Linked DNA regions of Homo sapiens: region 2 is linked to region 1. A link means that fine-mapping ties the variant in region 1 to the expression of a gene that starts in the linked region. Tissue or cell type: whole blood. Region 1 holds a variant in brackets; the other region holds the start of a gene. All regions are shown on one strand. Distances are from middle to middle.

The links. PIP is the estimated chance that this variant, and not a neighbour inherited with it, causes the effect.
Region 2: it holds the start of RELL2, and the variant in region 1 is fine-mapped to the expression of RELL2 in whole blood (INTERVAL, PIP above 0.99).

The regions. Positions count from the first base shown.
Region 1 is chr5:141,560,996-141,563,678 of GRCh38, forward strand. All of the region lies in intron 18 of DIAPH1 (diaphanous related formin 1), which reads right to left. It overlaps DIAPH1-AS1 (DIAPH1 antisense RNA 1), which reads left to right. Exons shown (of 3, transcript NR_038333.1): 2 at 807-910; 3 at 2,070-2,683. Among named protein-coding and RNA genes, the nearest start is that of DIAPH1-AS1, 4.0 kb to the left of the region's middle. The variant C/A (reference allele first, on the strand shown) is at 1,629.
Region 2 is chr5:141,635,458-141,638,140 of GRCh38, forward strand. RELL2 (RELT like 2) reads left to right here and starts at 1,540. Exons shown (of 7, transcript NM_173828.5): 1 at 1,540-2,683. HDAC3 (histone deacetylase 3) reads right to left here and starts at 1,392. Exons shown (of 15, transcript NM_003883.4): 1 at 1,279-1,392; 2 at 1,091-1,173. The coding sequence starts at 1,333. RefSeq lists silencers at 865-1,159, 1,169-1,218, 1,279-1,568 and an enhancer at 2,079-2,128.

The DNA of each region.
Region 1 (2,683 bases):
TCTTCTCCTCCAATCCCTAGTCTCTGACCTCACAATCTGGAACCTGAGCCAAAATAGCTCAACTGCGCGCACCCCGTGGCCGAAAAGAAAAATGCAAGCAGAATAGGAAAAACGGGAAATTCTTGGGAAGGATTTTTGCAGTTTTTCTTGCTAAAAGAAATGCAAACACACACACAGGAGAGTGCCGTATCTTCCCATCTAATAGATCTAAAAGAAGAAATCACTGGCTCTAAGAAGAGTTGGGGTTATTGTAGGATCAGGAGGAAAGAATGGTTCCATCCCATCTTGCAGAAATGGGGTTACCAATGCCCTTCTGTTATATCACTGGGGTCCCTTGTCCAATGGTACTTAGAAGTGAAAAGAGTTTTGTTTTTTTTTTTTTTACATTGGAGTCTGTTTTTTCAAAAAGAAACTGTTAAGAGTGAAGTAAAGGATACTGTTACTTGCTTTATAGAACTGAATGCTAGTACTTGGCTTGGCAGACGAAATCTCAGGTCCAAGTACTTCTAGAAATCTAGAAGTGCTCTAGAATCTTCTCCAAGCATGTCAGACACTGAAATTTCCTTTTTAACCCTGTGTCTTTTTCATTATAAAAACAATATAACCACATTATAGAAAAATTAAAAGAGAAAGTATGTAGTACCCTAACAAAATCTCTGTTACAGTAGTCTGGTATATTCCCTTCTAATCTTTCACTAATGCATTTGTTTTTAATATGAAACAATTGTAATAAGGTGTACATAATTTGTTTCCTGCTTTTCCCACCAAACACTGAATCACAAGCATTCTTCCACACTGCTCCAAAGGCAATGGGCGAGAGTTCTAATACATGGAACAGTTACAGGACACTAAGTTCTAGAGCAATTCATCTCCAGAACAAAAACTGAAATGGAAGCAAGAAAAAAATAAGGTAGGCCACTCCTTTCCTTTAAAGACCTTTTATAGAGTAGCATCCCTTTGCTAGCAGTACAAAGATCTCCTCCTGTTCAAGTATCACACTCGAGTGAAGTCTGGAAGGTCCCCTGGCTGAACTTTGCAAGTCTCTCTTCCCCATATCATAATGGCTGTAAGCTCTAGCATAAGTTGCCATACATTTACAGAGCTGATGTGGGTAACTAACTCTTCAATTCATTGTTATGTATGAGTTTTTTTTAGGAAGATCAAAAGGACATGTATACATGCTAAGATGCAGTCAGATCAAATGGGTTACTGTAGCTACTGTTTCAAAAAAAAAAAAGAACAATTATTTCATTACTCTACTTTTGTTTTATCCTTGTGTTCATTATAAAAGTAATGCCTGCTTATTAAAAACTTATAATTTTTTTAATGAGGAAAGTCTCTGCATACTGATACGAAGACTCTCCAGGATATAGAAGCAAGGTATAGAAACAGTACAGATAGTATGTTCCTTGTTTTGGTAAGAGGAAGGACAAGAATCTGTATCAGTATTTGTTTATAACTGCACTTTTTAAGAAAGTCTAAAGGATAATCAAACTAATAAAAATGGTTACCTCTAGAAGGTAGGGGAGGGAGAAGGATGGCATGGATGAATACTAGGGTGGGAATGAGACTTTTTTATACTGTTTTGACTTCTGAACCACTTACCTATGCAAAAAAAAAAAAACAAA[C/A]AAAAAAAAACAGATAACAGAGAAGCTGAAAGAAAAGCCCCAGAGGAAACATTCTGTGGAGACATCCTTAGCACTCCTTGCAAACTAGCCTGTCTACAACCTTATGTTTGGAGGGAGACTTGTTCAGCATCAGCAGCAAAGTCATTTCAGGTCCAACAATTCCCAAATAGTGTAAGGTCAAGGGATCCTCAAAACAGTGCCTTTTCCTTAAGGCAACAGTTTTGGGTTCTAGTATGTAGTAAGAGAGCACTGGATCACTCTTTTGTTCACCCCAATCCTTAGTTCTGCTTTGACACTTGCTAGATATCCCATTTCTTTGCCTAAACACATCTCTGATGTCTACCAACTCCAGGTCTCCATAGCAAGAGAATAACCAAGCTTGAACAAAAGTTATGTCTGTATAACTGTAACATTCTTCATCTTGATTTCTATCTCCTCCAGTTTCTCACAACTCCTTCCGTGTTGTACAAGCCCCAGTCCAGCACAATACTCTGCCCTAATCACTCTGCCCTCCATCCATCCTCTCCAGCAGAGTCAATCTCTAAGTGGTTCCGAGCTAGTTCACTGACCACAGAGGACTTCTTCAAAATGTCCTTCTAAGATGGCTACTGAGAAGTTTGGAAGATGGCAAGAAAAGTGCCTCTGAAACAGTGACTCCAAAATTGACTGCCAAGTCAACAGAAAATGTTGAATTGTTTCCTAATCAATCTCATATGACCTCCATAAGAACAGGGATAATACTTATATAATACCTATTCAGATACAGATACCAAAATATTATTAAGAGAACAGGTGAAGAGTGGCTTAATTCACACCATTAACATGTAAACATGTTACATGTTACAAACATGCTCCTCATGTAATCCTTATACTAAAGTTTGAGATTTACTGGTATCAACAGACATTTAAGGCTAGGAACTGACTGTACCAAGATGTTAGAAGTTTAAGTAATACTGACCCCCCAACTAGATGGTCTAAGTCTCAGACAATGACATTTAAAAGGACATTTGGTTAGAAATAAAATCTGGAATCCACAGATAATGGCAGATGGTACC
Region 2 (2,683 bases), 74 kb after region 1:
AGGCAAACAATCTCAAGGGATATAGATTCCTGCACTAACATCACCTCAGTCTTTTCTATGACCAGTCCATTTGTCTGTGCCTTGGCACAAGCAATGAACATTCATTCATATTGTTCACTAGTTTCCCTAGCAACACATAAAGCCTGGGTTTAGCTGTTTTGTCTTATTTTTTCTTTTGAGACAAGGTCCTCCCTGTCAACTCAGGCTGCTGATCATAGATCACTGTAACTTTAAACTCCTGGGCCCAAGCCATCCTCTCGCCTCGGCCTCCCAAGTAGTTGGGACTACAGGCACACCCACCGCACATGGCTACTTTTTTTATTTTTATTTTTTGTAGATGTGGGTCCCACTGTGGCCCAAGCTGGTCTCCAACTCCTGGCCTCAAGCGATCCCCCCCATTTCAACCTCCCAAAGTGCTGGGATTACAGGCATGGGCCACCACGCCTGGCGTGGCTTAACTGTTACTATCCCATATCACAGCCATAAATTCCAAGCTGGGAAGACAGCATGTGTATGTCTGGTAGATGAAAAACTGGATAGCGATTAAGCAGAACCATGTAGAGGTATTCCAGGCTGAAAAAGGAATATCTAAAATATCGCCTCTGTTCCACACGCACATACACATTTACAAAGACGGCAGCATCGTTCCACCCTGGAGCCCTAGCTCCTTGGAGGTAAAGAAAGGTGGTAAAAGAGGAGTGGGAACTGAGGGTAAACCTCACACCCTGATACAGTGATATCCGCTCCCCTAACCCTAATTCCTGAGGCCAAGGCCCTATCCACACTCTAAAATGCAGAGGAGGAACACACCTTCTGTCTTCAAACCAGCCCCACATCACGCTAACCCTAGGCCAAGGGCTAGTGTGCCTACAGTCAGAGGGTGGCCGACCTGAGGTGAGAAAGTACTTTCCATTAAGCAGAGGACGCCACCCCCAACACCCTGCACTTTCAAGGTACTCCTGGTGACTTCTATCCAGCTCCCCGATACTCTAGGGGCGGGTCGCACTTCATGCACTCAGTCCAGCCCACCTATCCCTACGGCCACAGCTCGCCCCACCCCCCAACCCCCGGCCGAGGCGGCGGAACTCACGATCATCTTCTTATAGAGACCGTAATGCAGGACCAGGCTATGGGTCAATGCCAGGCGATGGGGCTTCATAGGGTGTCCAGCTCCTGGGGGTGGGGAGAAGAGAGTTCGTCAGCTCTCACCCCTGGAGTTGCAACCCCGCCTCAAAACCTCCGTGTCCCAACCCCTCATGCATATCCCTGTTTCCTCACCGTAGTGGAAGTTGCCCACGTCGGGGTCGTAGAAATAGGCCACGGTCTTGGCCATGGTGCCGGCGGGAGCAGGCCCCGCACCTCCGCCGCCCGCCGCCCGCGGCCGCCGCCAGCCCCTCCCCGGCCGTGCGTGCTGCGCAAGCACGTAGCCGGCCTCTGCGGAACTGGGCGTTGCGGCCCCGCCTCCATCCACACCCAGGCCACGCCCCCAGGGGAGCTCCGCCCCTCGCCCGGCTCAGCTCTCCCGGTATCTGGGGCTTTGAGCGTCCCGGGTTGGGCAGGGAACTGGCAGCATAGCTCCTAGGATGCGAGGGCCATTTGTCTCCGGCCGGGGGTCAGATCCTCGGGAAGCCGAGCCATCCCATCCAGCCGCTTGCCCCAAACCGGGCGCAGGCCGTGGTCACTTCTCTAGGAAGCTCCGAAGATCCCGCCACTCCGTCCCTCAAAGGTGCGGAAAGCCGGCTTCCCCCAGCCCTCGGAGAAGATTCCTGACTCTCCGCTCGGTCGGGGCATCTGAGGGCAGGAGCTGCGCCAGGCGTACCGGATAGACCAGTGGACAACACCCACGCCGGACCGCCTGTCCCCTACCCGGACCCAGACTCGGCGCCGCACATTGCCCCGGGGGGGCCCGGCGCAGTCACGCGCGCGCAGAGCTCACGCTCTCCGCCCCGCACACCTGCGCTCCGCCCCCTGGTCCTGGGCCCGCGACGGGTGAAGGCATTTGGGAAGCCAGGGCGGCTGCGGAGGCGATCTCCCTGACCCAGGGCCGGAGTTGCCCGGAGCCTGCCACCGCTCTCAGCCAGCCCGCATCCTTCTCTGTTCTTCCCTCCCCCCGCCTGCCACGGCGCGGGTATCCGCAGCCACAGCCCGGGGCCGGTGAGGCGGCGAAGGGGGAGGGGAGGAATCAAGGGATGAGCGCCGGAAGGGCGTCGGGGGCCCTGAGCCGCACTAGGACGCCCCTGGAGCCGGAACCCCAGCAGAAGCCGGAACCAGAACCAAATCACCGGTACCGGGTCGGCCAGGTGGTCAGGGTGGGAGAAACCAAAAAGGGAGAGGGGTGCGGGAGTACTGAGAGGAAGGGGCTGCAGAGGCCTGGCTCAGGCCGGCGTGGAGGAGGTGCGGGCGCTGACTCAGGCAGGATTTCTGCTCCCGCCGCCTAAGAATGCCGTCCCATCTCGTGCTGCAGTGTCCTTGGGAGGGACAGAAGCGCGAACAAGCTGGAAAGGGGAACGCTCGGGGCGTCGGGGAAGCGGGACCAGGGTCGTGGTAGAGAGCTTGCGTTGCCGCTGACCTCTTGCCGAAAGGCGAAACAGCACTCCTGGCCCGGACAGCTCCCTGGTTGGGTAGGGGGTGGGGCCGGACCTCAGCCGGACGTCTTAGACGTGCTTGTTTCAGATCCTGAGGA